Homo sapiens: one gene and its partners. The protein of the gene in region 6 interacts with the protein of the main gene of each other region in a pairwise test. Each region holds a gene or a part of one and is shown on either strand. Other genes may lie near its edges. The genes, in order: SAXO4, CCDC120, MDM1, LHX2, MIA3, HOMER3 and C1orf116.

Region 1 (3,500 bases), on a different chromosome or scaffold from region 6:
TGTTGCCCTGGGGATAGCCTTTAACCAATGACCGATGGATGTGGGGGTATAAATACCCCAGCTCTCTCACCTTTGACTGGGGTAGTTCTGAGTTGTGTGCTTTACACTGTTTTCTAGAGTTTTCCCAGTGGGATAGCTGGCCTAGTAACATGCTCATTATTGCTGCCTTCCCTCCCTCATCCCTCTTCTCCACTCCCACACGCCTAATAACTGCCTGATAACATGCTTGCACTCCAATCCTTGGCTTAGGGTATGCTTCTGGGGAACCCATATTCACTCAGCATTGATCTTCTCCACGAGGCTGTGAGCTCATTACTTATCCCAGTCTCAGTCTGTTTCTCAAATGGGTTTCAGCTTTGGACCAGGAAGCGGACCTCACCCTTGGTTGTAGGTGGTCAGGTATCGCTGATCCCTGTCAGGATCACAGGGGCTCCGGACATACATGGGGTTGTTAAGGCTGAACCCTGTGGGCTCCTGCACAAGAGGGGTAGACAGGGGAATTGTCAAGTCAGAAGGGGTGGGGATTTGGGGGTGGAGGCTAGGTGTAGCAAGTCTCACCTTTTTCCCCACAGTCTCCCGGCCAAGCAGGGCAACGTTTGTCTGTTGCATCCGATGAAGTGGCTGAAACTGCTGGTGACTCACGCTGCTGGGTTCTGGGCAGGGAGGGGGCACCTGCAGGGCACAGAACCACCAGAAGGGAGGCTGAGGTGGCCAGCCTGAGGCAGCAGGGATGGAGAGGGGAGCAGGCAGAGGCACACACAGCTGTGACCTGTCCACAGCCCCAGCGACCCTCCCTTCCCCTTCCAGCCAATTCTATTTCAGACCACACCCCTCATCTTCCAGCCCCCAGGAAGGCCCAGGCTCTCTTCACCCTCCACCTGAGGGCCTACCTCCACATCCCTAAATATCCTAATTCTTCTCATTCTTCAATGCCTGACCCAAATGCCACCTCTTCCCAGAAACCTCCCTGTCTTCTCCCTTCTCTGAGCAAGACGCCAAGGCCACTCACTCTGGGGTTCAGAATCCTTTCATTCCCTCGGCTGAAGGCTGTTTCCCGCTTGGAGCCTCTGGCCAACACAGGTAGGAACTCATCTCCCTGGAGGGAGCAAAGCAGCCACTGGCACCAGGATGTGGCTGCCTCCCCCACCACCTTCCAGAGCCATGTTCTAACTGCTCCCCGCCAGGCGGTCCCCAGCCTCCCCCTAGCTCAGCTTACATGTAGGTGAGTCTTGGGGAGGAAGTCTGACTTGGTGACACTCTGGCCTGGGAGGAGGGCCTGGAAATAGGCCCACAGAGGATGTCAGCCCCGCAGAGGCAGCCTGGGCCCCTGGTGGCTCCCACCCACTCTGCCTCCAGGCCACTGCTGTGCTGAGCACAGAGGAGGACTCAGCTCAAATGGGCATCACTGAGAAAAGGGAAGTGTTTGGGGAGAAGACAGGGGAAGGCATGACTCTGAATGGGACCAGCAGGCCAGGGCTCTTGTCTGAACTCTGAATGACATTGGCTACACCTCCTTCATCTCTTTGGACCTCAGTCTTCTCATCTATAAATGGGGGACTTGGACCAAAGCAGTGGTTTTCACCTAAGCTCTTTCGTCTTGTGTTTGAACAAAGGGCTCTGCAGCTCACATTCTTTAGGAAAGCTAGAAACCCTGAGACTGGAGGGCTTCAAGCCCCCTAAAGTTCTAGCAGGAGCCCAGCCGACTTACAGGGTCCCCAGGGAGGGCCTGTGAGGGCGGTTGGAAGACAATGGGGCTCTGGTGGGACTGTTTGGTGAAGCCACTCCCCTCCTTTGCGCCGATCGATTTCTTCTGCAAGAAATCTGCAAAAGAAATGCCCTGTGTGCTGCCAGGCCACCTGGCCCACCCATGTGTCCTCCAGAGGCTCAGTGTCCCAGCAGGTGCAGAGGGAGTGGATCCCAAGATCCTGGAGACCTGCGCCATGAGGATCGTGGGTGGCAGGGTGAGGATTCCAGAGTCCAGGCCGGAGGACAGGAGAGGGAGCAGCAGGAAGGGCATGCACCGGCCAAGCCACCCTCCTGAGAGGCCCAAGGTACTGAGGTCAGCCCGGGAGAGGCGCTTCCCTCCAGCCACCTGTGCATCCTTCTTTCTTCCACTGGTGCCTTCTCAGTCCTAGGCCAGCTCCAGGGCCCCTGGGGTAGCAAGTAGGGAGGTGGATTGGAAGATGGGAAGGGAGCTGTGAGTTCAGACAGGGCCTACCTGGCTGGTCTAGAGGGTCCCTGAGATACTTGGAATTGTACTCCGACGTCATGAAGCGTGGGCCCTGGAACAGAGAGGTTGGAGGAGTGGGGGCACTGACCCACCAGGGCCCCGAAGGCGTGTGGCGGCGGTGGAGTGGCGCCTCGGTTCTCTGTGCTCTGAGGAAGCCTGTGTGGGCCAGTACAGCACCCTGGACACAAGTCTCTGTGGGGTGGGACATCGCAGGGCCAGGAATTTCAGCACAAAGCACAGTTCCCCTGTGACTATGAATACCACGTCACACCCCACACCAGACTCCTGGTAATGAGTGGGGGGCCCAGAGGGACCGAGACCAGGAGGGGCCGTGAGCAGGAGGAGGAAGGCTGGGGGAAGAGGAGTAGCGTTAAATCGCGAGAAGCCACATTGAGGCTATTTTGGAAATAGCCAATATCAAATCCTTTGCTCTCCCATCTTTCTTGGCGCCCTGAGCCCACCCTGAGCTGGCTTCTTGGGTGAGTCAGTGCAATACTTGTCTTGAGGTGGGAGGAAGAGGCGGGTGTGGCCCCTCTGCCCCACCCCGAAGCCCTTAGCTGGGCTGCCACTCACATGTCGGAAGTTCTCCCGCTCCAGCGGGTCCTGGCCCTGCTGCTGGTGGAGCAGAGGCACTTCCCTGGGCTCCAGCCCCGTGATGGCCTGAGGCCCGTGCTCCTGGGTGTCGAAATGGACCTTCCGGACCTGGGAGGAAGAAGGGCCAATTACAAGTGAGGGGGCGGCAGTCACTCCCTGACTCTGCTTCTGCCCTTGACCTTTACAGAGCGCAGTATCTGCAGAGCAGCCAGAGGGGGTCCTTTTACAATGAAACCTGCATGTCCCCTCTCTGCTTAGAGCCCTGCAGCCTTCCCATCACACTCGCAGGGAATTCCACGTCCTCCTGGTGGCCTGCAAGGACCTGAGTGCCTCACCCTGCTCTAGCTGCTTGTCTCCTTTCTGTTCCCACCTTGAGGCCTTTGCACTTGCTGTTGGCACTGCCTGGACCACTCCTCCCTCAGACAGCTGCAACTGGAGGAGCTGGCCTCCCTCAAGTTTTTGTCCAGTGTCTCCATAGCAAGCTCTTTCCCGACCCTCCCGATTTGCAGTTGCAACTCCTTCGCTTCTAATTTATTTATTACTTACATTTTTTGAGACAGAGTCTCGCTCTGTTGCCCAGGCTGGAGTGCAGTGGCATGATCTCAGCTTCCTGCAAACTCCACCTCCTGAGTTCAATCAATTCTTGTGCCTCAGCCTCCCAAGTAGCTGGGACTAC
Region 2 (3,500 bases), on a different chromosome or scaffold from region 6:
CCAAGGCTTGGGACCAGCTGCGGGCAGTATCTGGGGGGAGCCCTGAGCGGCGAACCCCATGGAAACCACCTCCATCAGATCTTTATGGGGATCTGAAGAGCCGGCGGAACTCTGTGGCCAGCCCCACCAGGTGAGAATGAGCCCCTCCTCCCCTCCGCAGGAGCTGGGAATGGGATAGCAAGCCTGGGCTGGCAGAGGGTCTGCTGGTGGGTACAGTCTCTAACCTAGGCCTGCCTGTCTCTGTCTAGCCCCACACGCTCGCTGCCCAGGAGTGCCTCCAGTTTTGAGGGGCGAAGTGTGCCTGCCACCCCTGTCCTCACCCGGGGCGCTGGCCCCCAGCTCTGCAAGTAAGGGGAATCTGAGGGTGGGCTGGAGGATCAGAGGGGAGGGAACCATTAGTTCTCACTGGAAGCTTGAGGACAACATTATCAAAAGGTGGGATGGCTGGGCGCGGTGGCTCACGCTTGTAATCCCAGCACTTTCGGAGGCCGAGGCGGGCGGGTTACTTGAGGTCAGGGGTTCAAGACCAGCCTGACCAACATGGTGAAACCCTGTCTCTACTAAAAATACAAAAATTAGCTGGGCATGGTGGGGCATGCCTGTAATCCCAGCTACTTCGGAGGCTGAGGCAGGAGAATCGCTTGAACCCGGGAGGCGGAGGTTGCAGTGAGCTGAGATCAACATCGTGCCATTGCACTCCAGCCTGGGCGACAAGAGCGAAACTCCGTCTCAAAACAAACAAAAAAACAAAAGGTGTGGGACATGGGAGGCTGGGCATTAAAGGTGAGCAGGCATCTCGGTGGATAATGGGGTAGGAGTCAGTCTCCTCATTTGTGAAATGGAAATAATAATATCTGCCTTTGAAAGACATGGACATAATAAGTTCTGGTTAACATATACTGAGTGCCTGCCATCTGCTAGGAATTAGTGTTTTACGTGGCATCAACTCATTTAATCATAATCAGATCCCTGTGAGGTGGGTGCTATTGTTATTCCCATTTTATAGATGAGGCAAGTGAGGCACAGAAAGGTTAAGTAACTTGTTAGTAAACTGAAGTCCTGGAGTTTGAGCCCAGGCAAGTTTTACTCTAGAGTCCATGCTTTTAACCACTGTCCTCTTCTGCTTCTTAAACAGAGTGCCTACTTTCCCCAGGCTCTGAACAAAACCAAGTCCCCTTCCTTGTGGGGCTTGCATTCTGTGAACGGTGGCTGTTGGGATGGTAGCTTTGGGTGGTTCATACGTATGGTCGGATAGAGAATTCAGGCAGGGTTTTACATGTGAGCCCTAAGGCCTAGGACTTAATCCTGGAGGCCGTGCGAGCCATGAGAACGGCCTTAGCAGGGGGAGGGGTCAGCTGGATTAGGAACAGCCCCCTGCCCGGCATCTACTCTGCTAGCCTTTCCTCTGAGTCCCTACACAGATTTACACCTCCCTTGGAGCTAACAGTGCCAGGCCTCCCCCACGCATTTCTACCCCTGACCGCCTAGCCTAGGATAGAACCTCAGCTGCCCTTTACATGTCACTACCTGCCACCTTTATACACACAGCTTCCAACCTTGGGCCCATTTGGAGATGTGAAAGTGAAGGCTTAGAAAGGGCTGGGGTAGGGAGGGCACTGCACGCCTTCTGCCTGATTTTTCTGACCCTATTCCCATGACCCTCGCCTCTCACCCCAGACCTGAAGGCCTTCATTCTCGTCAGTGGTCCGGCAGCCAGGACTCCCAGATGGGCTTCCCCCGGGCGGACCCTGCCTCCGATCGCGCCTCCCTCTTCGTAGCTCGCACCCGCCGCAGCAACAGTTCTGAGGCCCTGCTGGTGGACCGGGCCGCTGGTGGGGGAGCTGGCTCCCCGCCTGCCCCTCTGGCTCCCTCTGCCTCTGGCCCCCCAGTCTGCAAGAGCAGTGAGGTGCTGTATGAGCGCCCCCAACCAACCCCTGCCTTCTCCTCCCGCACAGCAGGCCCCCCAGACCCTCCCCGGGCCGCCCGGCCTAGCTCAGCTGCCCCTGCCTCCCGAGGTGCCCCCCGGCTCCCACCTGTGTGTGGAGACTTCCTCTTGGACTATTCCTTGGACCGGGGCCTGCCCCGCAGTGGCGGTGGAACAGGCTGGGGGGAGCTGCCGCCTGCAGCTGAGGTCCCAGGACCCCTCTCCCGCCGGGATGGGCTCCTCACCATGCTCCCCGGCCCACCACCTGTGTATGCAGCTGACAGCAACAGCCCCCTCCTCCGCACCAAGGACCCCCACACCCGTGCCACCCGCACTAAGCCCTGTGGCCTGCCCCCAGAGGCTGCCGAAGGCCCTGAGGTGCATCCAAACCCTCTGCTGTGGATGCCCCCACCCACCCGTATCCCCTCGGCTGGTGAACGCAGTGGCCACAAGAACCTGGCTCTGGAGGGGCTGCGGGACTGGTACATCCGGAACTCGGGACTGGCTGCGGGGCCCCAGCGCCGGCCTGTGCTCCCTTCCGTGGGCCCGCCACACCCACCCTTCCTCCATGCCCGCTGCTATGAGGTGGGCCAGGCGCTGTACGGGGCCCCCAGCCAGGCGCCACTCCCACACTCGAGGAGTTTCACGGCGCCCCCTGTCTCTGGCAGGTATGGGGGGTGCTTTTACTGATGGGTAGGGGTCTCGTAAGGCAGATGGCGAAGATATCCAGGCCAGGGAGTGGCTAGTCATGATAGCTAATGAATTGGACCATGAGGAAACTAGCTGCTGTGATGGCACAGGGTCACTCTACTGCACATGACCTGCATTAGTCCATGGGGTCCTGGTGGAGGGGATCTTGGGCACTGGTAGCAGCAATTCTTTATCAAGTTATAGGCTGAAGATGAGCCTTGAAGCCAGGGTGCCGGGAGGAAGGGACATCTCATGCCCCTTGCTGTTTTCTTCCTTTTTTCTCCATGCCCCAGAGCCTGAAAGTGCTGTCCTGTGCCTGCCTCCACCTCTTTAACGAGCCTCTTTTCCTTTCTTTTTCTGTGTCTTGTCTGTCTTTTCTTCTTCTTGTCTTCCCCGCCCTGTCCTCCGGATTCCTGCTACCCCTTCTAAAGATACTACGCGGACTTCCTGTATCCCCCGGAGCTGAGCGCTCGTTTAAGTGACCTGACGCTAGAGGGGGAGCAGTCCTCCAGTTCTGACACCCAGACCCCGGGGACACTGGTCTGACCCCTTCTGATATGTCCCTTGTTGGCCTGGGCACGATTCCAATCTGGGGAGCACACAGCTGACCTCGCTGGGCCCTGGGGTGTGGTTGCTCTCAGTCCTGAGCAGAGTGCGCCAACCTAATCTTCCAAGGCCCCTGGCTCCCCGTAGGCCCAGGAAGGTGTCTGACACCCTGCTTCTTCTCTCACACTGTGCTGGGGACTGGGGGCCCTCAGCTAGCTTAAAAGAGGGGGGATGATGTCATGGGGACCCCAAGCCCCTTCCTCCATTTATGTTTACAGTTGTGACTTAGGTATTCACTGTCTTCCTCCAACACTAGGCGTTTTACAAAAGGGAAACTGTG
Region 3 (3,500 bases), on a different chromosome or scaffold from region 6:
AGGGACAAAAGCCTAAGTGCAAGTGAATTCAAGAGAAAAAAGAGGAGAAGAATTGGAGAAAGCTGCCACAGATAATTCTCTGAAGTTTCTTTTCCAAGAAGGGAAGCAGAGTAATGCAGGAGTAGTTGAGAGAAGTGAGAACAAGATGGAAGACACAACAGCATGTTTGTATGTTGACAAGAATAATTTTGGAGAGAGAAAAGTTGATGATGCAGGAGTGAGGGGAAAGTTGTTGGAAAGATGCTCTTGAGTAGGAGAAAGGGCTTAGGATCTGGTGGAGATATGGAAGGGTTGGCTTTAGACACTGATTGTTTCTTTATTGTTAAAAGAGGGAAAGCAGAATTCATGGGCAGGCACTGCTGATGAATGTAGGAAGATGTGATGGCAGCTTTTGGAAGACCTCTTCTTATTGCTTCTTGGTGACATGTGAAGAAAGATCCTTACTGAGAATAAGGCTGGGGAAGATGTTGGAGATTTGAGGAAAGTGAAGGCATAGAGTAGTCTTCTCAGAGAGTGGGAGAGTGAGTGGGCCAGGGGAATGTGGGATATTTTAGGCCAATGTTAAGGGGCCATTTTAAGTTGGTGGTCACAAAGTTGGCAGAAGACCAGTCAGGAAGGGTTGTGTGCCCTTCTCCAGTAATGTTTGGCTGCAGAAGTGCAGGATACTTTTATCAGATAGAGTTGGATTTACCTAGGGTTTTGAATTTGTCATGAGAATAAGACAAAGTGAGAAAAAGGGGAATGGAGTTGAGGTATATATGAAGAAGGGATTATAATGAGTTGGTGAGGGAAGGACACTGGGACTTGAGAAGAGTGCAGAGGTGATAGGATCGGTGGATGGATGGTCTAGGTAAAATAAAAGACTTGTTGGAATTGGGGCACCTGTGGGGATTAGTTTTAAAGTTAGGAAATGGTGGTCAGAAATTTAGGTTATGGAGAGGTTGCAGTTACCAGTAATGACAAGGCTTAACTTAACATCATGGGTGTAAGTGGTTGGAGTAGAATAGAGAACATTCAGAGAAAAGGTTGAAAATCTATAGGGAATTTTGCTGATGGCTGTTTGTGAATTTGAGTACAAAGTAGGAGTTTTCAGGGATTGGGAACAGGTGGGAGATGGGATCAGAGCACCCTCTACCTCTTAATCCCCAGTGCTTAGAACAGAGTCCAGCTCATAGCACGTAACAGATTGAATGAATGTTATTGGAGTGACAGAATATCAAAACTATTTCCTGTTGCTTATGTATACACTGGTTTATTAAAGGAAATGTGACATTAGGAATATGGTCAGAGGACTCATGAGAATCAGATCTTAATGGACTGTTTTACTCCTCCTTAGAAATCCAGGCTGCCATCTGGAAGGTGTGAGCTTTTAGGCAACTGTATACACACAGCTGATTCAGCCAAAACGAGTGACTCATCCATATTTGTGGCTGGATTTATATGTATTATTTTCACTTACTGTGGAATTAATTTATTGAATAATCTAAATAGAGTAATATCATCCCTTAGAATGTTAATGCCATTCTCTGTCTCACTGTGAGTACTATACACTTTTAACATTTTAATTACCAACTCCTCTAAAATAAGTTTCTGGCCTGGTGCGGTAGCTCATGTTTATAATCCCAGCACTTTGGGAGGCCAAGGTGGGAGGATCACATGAAGCCAGGAGTTCAAGACCAGCCTGGCCAACATGGGGAAATCTTGTCCCTACTAAAAATACAAAAATTAGCTGGGCGTGGTGGCAGATGCCTGTAATCCCAGCCATTTGGGAGATTGAGGCACAAGAATCACTTCAACCCAGGAGGTGGAGGTTGGAGTGAGCTGAGATCACGCCACTGCACTCCAGCCTGGAAGACAGAGGAAGACTCTCTCCAAACCAATAAATACATACATATGTACATACGTACACAAGTTTATTATTGACAACTTGATTGGATATCCTTCCATGTGAATTTTCTGCGACCAGCACTACCAGGGACTATACCAGGAGCTAGCTAGATTTGGTTATTTCCCAGTGTCTACCCCTTGGTTACTGGTAGGCAGAGGAGTCACTAAACTTTGATATACACCATCAGTTTTTCCCCTTATATTCTCTTATAAAAGCATTGATAAGAAATTACGTTATTATTATGTATAAAATTAAACCCATAGGTCATTCAATTTCCAATAAATTATCAGTATGTCCCAAAACTTTAGGGTAGAATTCTCATATTGGTTTGATCATCAGGAAACATTTTCAAATCTTTATATTAAAAACCCAAGTGTGGATTTGCTCACTTCATTCATTTAGCAGATTTACCCACATGCTATGGCAATGATAATGGATAGAAACAGACATGGTACATAATCTTATGAAACCTGCAGTCTGGTAAGGGAGATACATGTTAATCACACCAAAAAAGAAATGAAATTAAAACTAATAAGAGTTTCAAAATAAAAGTACTTAGCACTATTCTGGAAGGAATTGTTCTAATCATGGAGATCAGAAACCTTCTTGGAAGTCAATGATGCTTCTTTGAAAAACTCATAATTGAGCTAAGATAAAGGAGAAGAGGAAGCATTAACCAGGAAAAAAGGATGGGGAGAAGGAGCCTAGCATATGCCAAGATCTTGTGGAGAGAAACAATGTAGAGTTTGAGGAAACAAAGACCAATACAGTGTGTGGCAGGGAGCCTGGTACAACATGAGGCTGGAAAACATGGCAACATTGGGATTTCTTTCGTTATCTCAAGAGCAATGGGAAGCCATTGAAATATTTTCAGTATGGGAATTGTGATGGATATATGTTTTGCAAGATCTGTCCGGCTGCCATAGGAGGCAAGAGTAGGCTGTGAATGCCCTTAAAAGGCCATTGCAGTAGTCCACGTAGGAGGTGTTGGTAGCTTGGATGAAGGAGGGTAGGAATAGACAGAAGTGGATGAAACTGCACAATTATGTAAGGGGAACAATGTTAAGGTTGATGCTGGGTTGGATAATGGATGAGAGACAGGGATGCCTGCTAAGTTTCTGGCTTGCCCAACAAGATTGATGGAGGTACCATGCACTGAGCAAGAGAACTCTGGACAAGGAGCCTCTTTGGAGGGTAGTTTTATTTTCATTCATTCAATTCAATATTTAATAGGCTCTTACCAAGTGCCAGGCACTGTTCTAGGATCTGAGGATTTATTGATAATCAGGTCAAAATCCCTGCCTTCATGAAGCTTACATTTTCATTGGGAGGAATAGACAATTTTTTAAGAAAATAATTTCACATAGTAGTAAGCGCTGTGAATTAAATAAGACTACAGGTCTCTAAGGGATGGGTAAGACAGCTTTAGTTTGGGCCATCAGGACAGGCACCTCTAAGGAGATGACGTTTTAGCTGAGACCTGACTGATGAGGAAGGTGCCCATGCAGAGATCTGGGGCAGAGATTGTTTTCCAATTAGAAAGAACAGGGGCCGGGCGCAGTGGCTCATGCCTGTAATTCCAGCAGTTTGGGAGGCCAAGGCAGGTGGATCA
Region 4 (2,517 bases), on a different chromosome or scaffold from region 6:
CCTTTGGCAAGTGGTTTTACCACTCTGACCCTCTCTGGTTTTTAAATCTATACAGTGAGGGCAGGCACGGTGGCTCATGCCTATAATCCCAGAACTTTGGGAGGCCAAGGTGGGCGGATCACCTGAGGTCAGGAGTTCAAGACCAGCCTGGCCAACATGGTGAAACTCCGTCTGTACTAAAAATACAAAAAAATTAGCCAGGCATGGTGGCGGGTGCCTGTAATCCCAGCCACTCAGGAGATTGAGGCAGGAGAGAATCACTTGAACCTGGGAGGCAGAGGTTGAAATGAGCTGAGATCGTGCCACTGCACTCCAGCCTGGGTGACAGAGCAAGACTCTGTCTCAAAAAATAATAATAATAATAATAATAGTCAATAAATAAATCTATAAAATGGGAATAATAATAGTCGAATCCACCTACTTGGCTTTTCATGGGAATAACCTGTGGCAGTGCATGCTGGAGGGTGGCATGGAGCCTGGCACATAGTAAAAGGTACATACATGTCAGCCATTCCTATGAATACATATTACTGATTCTTAATCTCTGCCAGTCTCTGCCATGCACCGGGGGACATGAAGATAGCATAGAAAGGGTCCCTGCTCCCATCAAACTCTCAGGAGTGGACTTTTTGAAATACCTGGGAGAGAATTCTAGTGAAGCCCTGACAACATGAAGAACAAACCCCACACAACCCCAGAGCAGCCGGGCTTTTAATGAAGTTGTTGAATTTTCATCTACCAGATTCCCAGTGCCTCAGCTCTGGAAAGCAGAGAAGGTAGTTGTGGACGATGGTGTCATTGTTTACAAGCCCACTGTTAGGGGCAACAGCCTGAGAAATAGCAAACAGCCGGCAACTAACCGGGTCCAGCCCTGCCCGAGGTCTTGGAGCCCCGGATGGATGAGCAAATGAGCACCCGGCAAAGCACCCTCAAACCCTCGACCCAGGCTCCCCGCTCCAGCTACTGCTCTGAGAGTCAGACGCACAGAGCACAGGCTGCTCAGGGGTCACACGCACACAGGCCAGGACAGTGGCAAGGCAGCGGCACCAAGGCTCCGGCCTTCTCCACCCCAATCTGCATGACTTTGGGGAAGTCACTTCCTCTCTCTGAGGGCCTCTGGGGGCTTCCCCATCCATTTTCTTTAGGCCACCAGGACACAGTCTCTCCCCTACAGATTTCTGCTGGCCGGGAAAGGGAAGGACCCCCCCACCCCAGGGAAAGCATGTCAAGGGTGGTCTGAGAAGCACTGTACTTATTTGCCAGCCCCCAGAAGGGGTGATGGGCTTTCTTTGGGCGGAGAGCCAGGGAAAATGTGCCTTCTTCCTGGGAAGATCCAGCACTGAGGAGGGAGCTTGGTTTCTCCACTTCACAGGGTCTGGATCTCCCACTTTACTCCAAGATTCTTGTGGATTTGCTTTTAATTGAGCCCAAATTGTGTTACGCCACCAGAAACGGGGGTTTGAGGCCACAGGCCCCTGCAGCCGGGGTGGTCCCAAGGGGTGCGTGGGGCCAGGAGTCAGCCCTCCCTCTCCTGCCAGAGACACTGGGAAGACAGGCAGATGCAGGACATCTGGAAATGCGCAACTGGACACCCCAGAATCTGCAGAGTGCCCTGAGGCCCTTTGTTTTATGGGGAGGCTTCTGGCGGGTGTTTTCCTCACGCAAAGGGAAGTGAAGGGGCCCTGCCTTTCAGGACTTTTTCCTTGGAAGGTTCAACCCCCCCAGAGTGGCCTGGATTTCCTAAGCCCCTCCCAAAGTACTTCGTGGACCTCTGGGTACAGCGGGTCCCTGTGTTTGTGCTGTTAGATGGGTGGTGGTACTTAGGTGCTGGCTGTGTAGATGAATTTCATTTTTCTTTTCTTTTTTTTTTTTTTTTTTTTTTGAGATGGAGTCTTGCTCTGTGGCCCAGGCTGGAGTGCAGTGGTGGGATCTTGGCTCACTGTATCCTCCGCCTCCCGGGTTCAAGCAGTTCTTCTGTCTCAGCCTCCCGAGTAGCTGAGGTTACAGGAGCGCACCATCACACCCAGCTAATTTTTTATATTTTTAGTAGAGATGGGGTTTCACCATGTTGGACAGGCTGGTCTCGAACTGCTGACCTCAAGTGATCCACCTGCCTCGGCCTCCCAAAGTGCTGGGATTACGGGCTTGAGCCACTGTGCCCGTCCTTAGATGAATTTCTGTGTGTCTTCCTGAATGCTTACAGGCGTGTGTGCAAAGATATGGGAGTGGACGCGTGTGTGTCTGTGCCCAAGGAAAAATGAAAGTAAACCCATGTTCTCTCACTGACATTCTTTTCAGACAGAGCTCAGCCCCAGCTCTGCGCCCCGCCGCACGTCCCTCATAAGTCGATACGGGATGCAGCAGGTCGGGAGAGAGACTCTGCGGGTTTCAACTTCCCTGGCCTCACTTTAATTTGGCTGCCGTTCCCACGCTGCCTACCTCCACCCACCTCCACCCTGAGACCTGACACCCAGTGGCCCAGGGTACCTGGTGGCTCCCCCAACCGATGATGGGGAT
Region 5 (3,500 bases), on a different chromosome or scaffold from region 6:
ACTTTGTATGGGTCCCAGAGTGTTATTCAAGGTTTACAGTATTGCACTAAACACAAAAAATACATGAGAACCACAAGAGATCACTTTTTACTCACTGTACAATTTACTGGAGAGATGAACTGCTCACGTGGAAATGATTAGCGTCGCATGGCATTTTAAGTGGATACTCACAATACTTGAGCTCACTAGAATAGCAAGAGGAGGTGGCTACGAACTATTATAGTACAGTAGGTAGCACAATTAATTTATGCAATTATGATTTAATATTTTATCTTTACGTTTGTTTATATTTCTCTCGACTGCAAAAGGTGCCATGTAAGATCTGAGTTTGTGTGTGTACGTTTTGATAAACTGTAACTTTTTATACAGATTTGTGTATGTTTTATGGTAGTAAAGAATAAAATACACTAGGATCTACATATGGTTTACATGTCAATAACATACCTTTTTCTTAATTTTTTCAGTATTTCTAGGCTATGCGGTCTGAGAGTTTTTAACAAATTAATGCAAACCTCCACAAAATTTTACAATATATTTATTGAAAGAAATCTGCATTATAAGTGGACCCACACAGTTCAAACCTGTGTTGCCCAAGGATGAACTGTATTTGCACATATGATGTGCTATACTGCCATTTTCCAAAACGATATTACAGGTAACTGGAGACAAAACAAAATTACAGTGTAATACACACTAATCTGCCCACCAAGCTTTCATTTCATGCAAACCAAAATCTCTACAGAAAATAATTCCATTCATTTTCAGCACTAGTAAAATGTGCCCTCTTGAGAAACACACAGTCTTTTACTAGCTACTGTCTGAAAGGAGAGGTAGATCTCCCAATCATTAAAGGAGGAGGCTGGCATGTAAATCAAATGCACAAAAAGAAAAAAAGGCCATCTTATCACTAATTCATAAAACATCTCCATTCATGAGTGCTCTTGATCTGAAAACTATCTGAAAGCCAGTATTAGTAGTAAAATACTGCCATGGAGATTAGATAAGGGCAATTAAACTCTGTGTTATTGGCAGATCAAGTCTAAAATGCTAAGAAACCAAAAAAGACTGCAGAATGAAAACTAAGAAACAAATGAGAATCATTTTGAAAGCTGAAGACAGAGTTTTTAATTTCCTAAGAATAAGGTTCATCAAATTAGAGGGGAGACTATTTTAAGGGAGAACCTGGAAAAAGGAAACAAATCAGAGGTAGAGGTATATAGGGAAAGGGAAATACAATACATTTACCTTCCTTAATCTTTGTCAGTTGGGACCACAGGTGGCATCTCATTTCTTATGATTTGACCAAAAAAAAAACAAAAAAAAAAACATAGGCTCACATGACAAGAAAAAATCTTTATGTCTAATTTTGCTTTCATACATCATTTCTGCCAAGGTACTGTTGATTTCATTTGGGCGGGGGGTAGGAGGGAAAGTAGAGTATCGCCTTAAGAGAACAAATTCTGCATAAGATAATATCAGGACAAATATAAATAAATGCCACTGCCTCGTCAGGAAATACTGAAAAAGAAGACAGATAAGGCATGAGCCTTTCCATTAAAGAGTCTTTCACTTTACGTGAGCTAAGACAGTACACAAATTAACTGCCATACAAAGCAGTAAAGCAAATGCCACATGAACAGTGCAAACAAAGTGCCACCTAAACAATCATCAGGCAGCAAAGATCCCTTCTGGCTGGGTGCTGAAGGCAGCGTTCCTTAAGAAGGCAGGATGAGAGGTGTGACCCAGAAAGACTGACAGGACATCCAGAGATGAAGACGTGAATGAGCAAAACTGCAGTGGGAGGAAAATGTTAAGTCAAGTTCATTCATCCAAATGCTCAAAGATGAGGAGTGGAAAAAAAAACTTAACTTTTCTATGAAAAAACGCAGCCTAGGTACATGGAAAAACATTTCCAAGAGTAAAGATTATCAACAAATCTCATTAGGTAGACTTGAAGGAAATAGAATAGATTTGTTTTGGTATGGAGCAAGTCACTTGGGATGCTCTCTAAATAGGAGAGCTGAACCTGACCAGTTGTTGTTTCCCAAGATTACTCCCTAGGAACCTGGAATGCCAACAAAATCAGTCTATTTTCCCCAAGGGGATTTCTCAAGCCTTATTTTCTCTTTGTTTGTTTGGTGTTTTACTGACAGTGAAAACTTTCATAGTCGGGATGGGTATTTCTCTAAGTTGGGACAATCCTAAAGATATCGAGGACCCTTACTACTTGAAGTAAAGACACAGTCCACATATCACGCTTTCTAAAAAGGAAAGGACAATAACTCATAAGACAGGCCTCTCAATCAGGTCACTCCCAGTGAATCTCCTCATTAAAAATACCAAAGCATGATGCAGTCATTGATTGCCAGGTCTGATAGCAGGGTACCCATAAAATCAGCTGGGAATCAATCCCCTGGGGTAACCTCCAGACACAAGTGTCTGAAAAGCAGGACAAGGATGACCCCAAGGCTGCAAACAAAAATACAAACAAGAGGCTGGTTGCGGTGGCTCACGCCTGTAATCCCAGCACTTTGGGAGGTCAAGGTGGGTGGATCACAAGGTCAGGAGATCGAGACCTAGCTAACACAGTGAAACCCCGTCTCTACTAAAAAAATACAAAAAATTAGCCGTGTGGTGGCAGGCACCTGCAGCCCCAGCTACTCGGGAGGCTGAGGCAGGAGAATGGCGTGAACCCGGGAGGCGGAGCTTGCAGTGAGCCGAGATCGCGCCACGGCACTCCAGCCTGGGCGACAGAGCAAGACTCCGCCTCAAAAAAAAAAAAACAAACAAACAAGAAAGCACACGAGAAACAACATTTTGCTTTTTTACAGACTTATAATAGCACAGATGATTAGGGAACTGTTCCCAAGACTGCCACTTTTTCATAAATAATAATATAAACAAAGAAATACACATAAAATCAACTTTAAGCTTACATGCCTGAAACACTCTCTCACATATAGTTTACAGGAGTAAGTCTAATTCCTATGAATACTTCCTTTTTAAAGCAATGAAGTATTTTTCAGCTCTTACCATTTCAACCTCTAATACGTATGCAGCATCCTAGAGGTTGACCCTGAGGGGAACTTGCCAGAATCAGTTCTATTTCAGAAGGCTCTGCTGAGCCCCTACTCTGTGCAGACCCAAGGCCTGCTGGGGACACAGGGCCATCTTTTTTCACAGTCAGGCAGAGAGGACAAGTTAACTCCATCAAAGGTCCCAAGAAAATGCAGTCATTTAACTCTACAGTGCTAAAGAAGCCAATAAAAATTAAGCAAATAAAGTATGTCGATATTTTACTTACACTTCCAGCCCAAACTTCAGGCCATCCTCTTGCCAGTTTATAGTAAACATATACAGGATCACCTTTTTTAAAATTCACAAAACGACAATCCGGGCCTGTGAAATCTTCAAGAGCCTCACCGCGGTACATTAACACTGTATATAAAGAGAGAGAAAAAAAATAGCCAGATATCAGGATTCAGTGTTCACAGTGCATA
Region 6 (2,515 bases):
GTGGAAGGCCTGATGCCCAGCAGGTGCCGCGTGAACAGTGGCTGTTGGTACAGTTTCATATCCATCTATGGGTTCAACAAGCAATGCTTGAGTTCCTGCTGTATTCCCATGCCAGACCCCGTCAATTCCTCCTGTTCTCAGCCTGAGATCACAGAGCCTGCATTGGAACTAGGTCTGGCTTGGCTTGGCTTTATTTTTTTTTAATTCTTTGAGATGGAGTCTCGCTCTGTTGCCCAGGCTGGAGTGCAATGGCACGATCTCAGCTCACTGCAACCTCCACCTCCCGGGTTGAAGCAATTCTCCTGCCTCAGCCTCCTGAGTAGCTGGGATTACAGGCGCCCGCCACTACACCCAGCTAATTTTTTGTATTTTTAGTAGAGACAGGGTTTCACCATGTTGGCCAGGCTGGTCTCAACTCCTGATCTCATGATTTGCCCGCCTCGGCCTCCCAAAGTGCTGGGATTACAGACATGCGCCACCGTGCCCGGGCATTTTTTGTGTTTTTAGTAGAGATGGGGTTTCCTCATGTTGGCCAGACTGGTCTCGAACTCCTGACCGTGAGCAATCTGCCCTCAGCCTCCCAAAGTGCTGGGATTATAGGCTTGAGTCACCACGACTGGCCTTGGCTTGGCTTTTGCTAAAGGCTTTATCTGAGAAATGTTCAGGGGGTACTTTTTTTTTTTTTTGAGACGGAGTCTCACTCTGTTGCCCAGGCTGGAGTGCAGTGGCGCAAGCTCCGCCTCCCAGGTTCACTCCATTCTCCTGCCTCAGCCTCCCGAGTAGCTGGAACTACAGGTGCTCGCCACCATGCCCGGCTAATTTTTTGTATTTTTTGGTAGAGACGGGGTTTCACCATGTTAGCCAGGATAGTCTCGATCTCTTGACCTTATGATCCACTCGCCTCGGCCTCCCAAAGTGCTGGGATTATAGGCGTAAACCACTGCGCCCAGCCTTTTTTTTTTTTTTTTGAGATGGAGTCTCACTCTGTCACCCAGGCTGGAGTGCAGTGGCGCGATCTCGGCTCACTGCAAGCTCCGCCTTCTGAGCTCAAGCGATTCTCCTGCCTCAGCCTCCAGAGTAGCTGGGACTACAGGTGTGCACCACCATGCCCAGCTAATTTTTGTATTTTTAGTAGAGATGGAGTTTTACCATGTTGGCCAAGCTGGTCTTGAACTCCTGACCTCAGGGGATCCACCTGCCTCCGCCTCCCAAAGTTCTGGGATTACAGGTGTAAGCCATCACTGGGCGTGGTGGTGTATGCCTGTAATCCCAGCTACTTGGGAGGCTGAGGCAGGAGAATTGCTTGAACCTGGGAGGCGGAGGTTGTAGTGAGCCGAGATCACGCCATTGCACTCCAGCCTGGGCGACAAGAGCGAAACTCCTTCTCAAAAACAAACAAACAAACAAAAGAAATGAGGGCAGAAGCTAGGCCCCTGTGGGGTGTGCATTTTATTCCTGGTGTGTTGGGCGCCCTAGGATGGCTCTGGGCAGAAGAGGGACATGAAGGTGGTCAGACTCTGGATGCCTCGGGCAGGACTGGTGATTTGTTGGGGCCCCCAACCCTGCCCACCCTTTCCTGGCAGGACCTGGAGACCCGCAATGCGGAGTTGGAGCACCAGCTGCGGGCGATGGAGCGCAGCCTGGAGGAGGCACGGGCAGAGCGGGAGCGGGCGCGGGCTGAGGTGGGCCGGGCAGCGCAGCTGCTGGACGTCAGCCTGTTTGAGCTGAGTGAGCTGCGTGAGGGCCTGGCCCGCCTGGCTGAGGCTGCGCCCTGAGCCGGGGCTGGTTTTCTATGAACGATTCCGGCCTGGGATGCGGGCCAGGCTGCAGGCGGCATAGTTGGGCCCATTCGTCCTGGAAAGGGACTGGGGGGTCCCAACTTAGCCCTGGGTGGGCCGGGCCGGGCTGGGCTGGGGTGGGCCCCAGTCGGCTCTGGTTGTTGGCAGCTTTGGGGCTGTTTTTGAGCTTCTCATTGTGTAGAATTTCTAGATCCCCCGATTACATTTCTAAGCGTGGCTGTGTGTGTGTGGTATGTGGGTATCTGGGCACTTAACATGTCGCCGGCGCCTTTCCCTGCGTCTTTTTGGGTGCCCCTGAATCCATGTAGCAGTTATAAGCCGCTTGCAGATGAGGGGTGAGGCTTGGAGTCCGAGGGGGGTCCAGGCCACACAGCCAGGAAGCTGGCTCTGGTGTCTCTCTGCCTGTCCCCTTGGGCTTAGCCCACATTGTCTGGCCAAATTTGGACTTTCATGGCCCCTTCACTCTGGCCACAAACCCCAGATGTGGCCAGGTGGGTGGCCAGGGAAGCTTATAGCTGCACCCATTCGGCACAGGACTGACCTCACCAAAGCCTCACAGCTGCCTCTGGAGAGCAGGGCAGTTGCTATGCCCATTCTCCAGATGAGGAAACTGGAAGCCCAGAGAAGGGGCTTCAGGGCCCAAAATCCCATGGCCATTCGAGCAGCTGGTGTCTGCAAAACTTTGGGCCTGCCTGGTGGAAATGGACATGGTGTTC
Region 7 (3,500 bases), on a different chromosome or scaffold from region 6:
TAACATGTAGGCCCACATGCGAAAGGAAGTTCCAGAGGCAAATGGAAGGGTTATTCTGCAACCCTCTCCCCTCCCTCCAGGATATTTTTAGAGCTGTCTCAAAATCTTTCCTGGCCATCTGAGTGGGCCTGAAGAATATACAACTCTGAAGTGTCCCAAATATTAGGAAAAGGGCTGGAGATGCCAAGAAGAGACTTGGCCCAAATTTCTTATATTCCAATTTGCCCTTTTGTTTTCCCTTCAACCTCCTCTGTGGAAGAGCAACTATTCCAGCAAACTTCTAGCCCCATACAACATAGACAGTAACTGTCTGAGATGACCATTATTATTTTCTTCCAAAAACCTCTATGTACTCTCTCATAATGAATATGATCTACTTTAAGATCTACTTAATATTTAATACTAAGCTGCTTTTCCCTCCTCCCATACCATCCAGTTTCTCCACCAACCTCCCCCTTTAAGTTAATATTTGCTTTAGAAATGCACACTTACTTGAACATTAGCCAGAGCCAAATGTCATCAAGAAAGTAAATGTACAAGGGGAAAAATTCCCGTATGGAATGCATTTCAAAGTCAAGTACAAATCATTTAGTACATTTATCTGTGGCCAGTCATGCCACAGTTCCTACTGGCCTGGCAGCTCATAGCTGGCTTCATTTCCTGCTTTTCCTCATACTGCCCTTGACATACCAGATCAAGTATGCAGAAGTACTTTTAAAAGTTAAAAGCAATACCACTGAAGTTTCAGGTCAAATTGTTATGTTGCACTTCTTATTTGGAGCTAAATCAGAGGTGCTCAAAGTGAGATGTTTGACAAAGGCTGTCAAACATTGAAACTTGGGACTGCTTCTAATCTGTGCCCCTAAGCATTCAAGCCAGGACTGAGCAAAAGAAAGGCCCCTGCCATGTGCCTGCCCAGCTCCAGAGCTGGGCGCTAGTGGGCCAGCCTCCTGACAGACTCTGCCCTCCCTGGTGCCTACAGTTTCAGGAGGCAACTCCAGCAGCTTTGCAGAGTAGCAGGAGGGAAAGGTTTCCAGCTCTTCAGCATTCCTTCCTCTCTGCAGGGTGGTTCTCAGGCCCCGCCAGTTTCTGCGGAGGGAGCGCTTTCTCACAGCTCTCTCTCCCTCTCCTGTTCTTCTTCTCGCCCTCCCCCCCGCCTCCCCGCCCCCGCCCCCAACCCCAAACCCAACAGAGTGATAGCAGCTACGACTTCCTGTCCACTGAAGAGAAGGAGTGTCTGCTCTTCCTGGAGGAGACCATTGGCTCACTGGACACGGAGGCTGACAGCGGACTGTCCACTGACGAGTCTGAGCCAGCCACAACTCCCAGAGGTTTCCGAGCACTGCCCATAACCCAACCCACTCCCCGGGGTAAGGCAGACCCTCTGGGGTGGAACCCCAGCAAAACCCAGAAAATCAATATGTCCCCTCCGGCCACTTTCTACCTCGCCTGCCCTCTACCCCAAGGGTCACAGGCAGAAGAAGGTGTAGCCACACTCCTCACCACTCTCCTGGCTAGAACAGAGCCTTGTCCCTGGAGGGAAGGAGGGACCCCTGGCAAGCCAGCTTCCTATGTCTGTCTATGAAGTATCAGAGCTCTAGAAGGGAAAGGGGTTTGACCAGCTCCCATTCTCCTGTGGAAAAATTCTAAAGAGATATGACCGCAGAGGCGGGGGAGGGAGTCAGGGAGGGCTGGGTGGTTGGCTCTGGAGAGACTGAGTCAGTCTAGAGAGCTAATCTGGGTGACACAGAGGACAAGGGTAGGAGAGATAAGGAGAAGGAAGGGCTCCCCAGCTGCAGTGGGAAGTACCTCAAGGCCCTCGTTAGAGAGCGTGGAAAGCCAGTGGTATTCAGGCTCAGCAGAAGGGGAACAAAACAACACACAAGTGTGGCCATGACTGTGGGGCCACATGTCCCAGGGTGTGAGAAACCTTTTACTCCTGAGGACAGTCCCGCTGGTATTGGGGCTGCAGTTTTGTGTTGTTTCATTTAGCAAATATTTATTAACAAGTAGTTAGACCTTCCCTGGAGCTAGAGCTATAAATGGGGACGTAGGGCTTTCCTGCTCCATGAGGCTGATTCACTGGCCCAGGGGGCCTGATGTACCTGCCTAGCTCACTGGAAGGAAAGGAGTCACTTTCTGGTGTGGGGACACTATGGCTATTACAGAATTATCCACATGCTCATAGAAAGTGCAAGTAGAAGGCAGAAGCCTGGTTGAATCAAGAGCAAATCACTTATTCAGAGGCTTGCATTGGGCTCAGTTATCTGGGAGGCCCAAAATAGCTAGAAGGAACTGTCCCAAATTTATCTCCAACCCTGGTGCCTCTGTAGAAAACTGGGGAGAGGTCAAGTCAATAACTTAGAGCAATCAGGGGTCACTCTCTTGCCGCCCATCATGAAAAATTAATTCTCAGTCAAAAAAAGATATGCTATTATTATTTGTAGAAATGGGGGTCTCTTATGTTGCCCTGGTTGGTCTCGAACTCTTGGGCTCAAATGATCCACTTGCTTTGGCCTCCCAAAGTGCTGGGATTACAGGCATGAGACACTGCGCCTGGCCCTGGATCTGCTATTACTGATCTATTAGTCTAAATGATATCCAGACAAAAGTGCTGCTCTTGTAAAAGCAAAGAAAACAAGGCAAAATAAAACCCATTCATTGCTAGTTTGGGATCAGAGTTCAGGAAGTCATTGCTTTCCCCTCTGCAGCAGGGCCCTCACCTCTGTCCACTCTTTTTCTGTCCACTCTTTTATGTTCTTTCTGACCCTCACAGGAGGTCCAGAGGAGACCATCACTCAGCAAGGACGAACGCCAAGGACAGTAACTGAGTCCAGCTCATCCCACCCTCCTGAGCCCCAGGGCCTAGGCCTCAGGTCTGGCTCCTACAGCCTCCCTAGGAATATCCACATTGCCAGAAGCCAGAACTTCAGGAAAAGCACCACCCAGGCTAGCAGTCACAACCCTGGAGAACCGGGGAGGCTTGCGCCAGAGCCTGAGAAAGAACAGGTCAGCCAGAGCAGCCAACCCAGGCAGGCACCTGCCAGCCCCCAGGAGGCTGCCCTTGACTTGGACGTGGTGCTCATCCCTCCGCCAGAAGCTTTCCGGGACACCCAGCCAGAGCAGTGTAGGGAAGCCAGCCTGCCCGAGGGGCCAGGACAGCAGGGCCACACACCCCAGCTCCACACACCATCCAGCTCCCAGGAAAGAGAGCAGACTCCTTCAGAAGCCATGTCCCAAAAAGCCAAGGAAACAGTCTCAACCAGGTACACACAACCCCAGCCTCCTCCTGCAGGGTTGCCTCAGAATGCAAGAGCTGAAGATGCTCCCCTCTCATCAGGGGAGGACCCAAACAGCCGACTAGCTCCCCTCACAACCCCTAAGCCCCGGAAGCTGCCACCTAATATTGTTCTGAAGAGCAGCCGAAGCAGTTTCCACAGTGACCCCCAGCACTGGCTGTCCCGCCACACTGAGGCTGCCCCTGGAGATTCTGGCCTGAT

The links.
Region 1: the proteins of HOMER3 (region 6) and SAXO4 interact in binary tests that used the Homo sapiens proteins (3 or more experiments, as listed by UniProt).
Region 2: the proteins of HOMER3 (region 6) and CCDC120 interact in binary tests that used the Homo sapiens proteins (3 or more experiments, as listed by UniProt).
Region 3: the proteins of HOMER3 (region 6) and MDM1 interact in binary tests that used the Homo sapiens proteins (3 or more experiments, as listed by UniProt).
Region 4: the proteins of HOMER3 (region 6) and LHX2 interact in binary tests that used the Homo sapiens proteins (3 or more experiments, as listed by UniProt).
Region 5: the proteins of HOMER3 (region 6) and MIA3 interact in binary tests that used the Homo sapiens proteins (3 or more experiments, as listed by UniProt).
Region 7: the proteins of HOMER3 (region 6) and C1orf116 interact in binary tests that used the Homo sapiens proteins (3 or more experiments, as listed by UniProt).

What each region holds. Positions count from the first base shown.
Region 1 is NC_000011.10:61,484,120-61,487,619, reverse strand, and holds part of SAXO4 (stabilizer of axonemal microtubules 4), read right to left. Parts: intron 2,933-3,500; coding exon 2,804-2,932; intron 2,283-2,803; coding exon 2,219-2,282; intron 1,822-2,218; coding exon 1,709-1,821; intron 1,277-1,708; coding exon 1,217-1,276; intron 1,097-1,216; coding exon 1,010-1,096; intron 673-1,009; coding exon 559-672; intron 475-558; coding exon 380-474; intron 1-379.
Region 2 is NC_000023.11:49,065,499-49,068,998, forward strand, and holds part of CCDC120 (coiled-coil domain-containing protein 120), read left to right. Parts: coding exon 1-130; intron 131-248; coding exon 249-347; intron 348-1,677; coding exon 1,678-2,592; coding exon of another isoform or gene 2,593-2,614; exon of another isoform or gene 2,615-3,045; coding exon 3,046-3,160; 3' UTR 3,161-3,500. UniProt on the Homo sapiens protein: Centriolar protein required for centriole subdistal appendage assembly and microtubule anchoring in interphase cells. Together with CCDC68, cooperate with subdistal appendage components ODF2, NIN and CEP170 for hierarchical subdistal appendage assembly.
Region 3 is NC_000012.12:68,308,363-68,311,862, reverse strand, and holds part of MDM1 (nuclear protein MDM1), read left to right. Parts: intron 1-3,500. UniProt on the Homo sapiens protein: Microtubule-binding protein that negatively regulates centriole duplication. Binds to and stabilizes microtubules.
Region 4 is NC_000009.12:124,028,768-124,031,284, forward strand, and holds part of LHX2 (LIM/homeobox protein Lhx2), read left to right. Parts: intron 1-2,517. UniProt on the Homo sapiens protein: Acts as a transcriptional activator. Stimulates the promoter of the alpha-glycoprotein gene. Transcriptional regulatory protein involved in the control of cell differentiation in developing lymphoid and neural cell types.
Region 5 is NC_000001.11:222,621,097-222,624,596, reverse strand, and holds part of MIA3 (transport and Golgi organization protein 1 homolog isoform 1 precursor), read right to left. Parts: intron 3,439-3,500; coding exon 3,305-3,438; intron 1,291-3,304; exon of another isoform or gene 1,246-1,290; intron 1-1,245.
Region 6 is NC_000019.10:18,928,703-18,931,217, reverse strand, and holds the end of HOMER3 (homer protein homolog 3), read left to right. Parts: intron 1-1,583; coding exon 1,584-1,775; 3' UTR 1,776-2,015; downstream 2,016-2,515. UniProt on the Homo sapiens protein: Postsynaptic density scaffolding protein. Binds and cross-links cytoplasmic regions of GRM1, GRM5, ITPR1, DNM3, RYR1, RYR2, SHANK1 and SHANK3.
Region 7 is NC_000001.11:207,022,757-207,026,256, reverse strand, and holds part of C1orf116 (specifically androgen-regulated gene protein), read left to right. Parts: intron 1-1,192; coding exon 1,193-1,370; intron 1,371-2,776; coding exon 2,777-3,500. UniProt on the Homo sapiens protein: Putative androgen-specific receptor.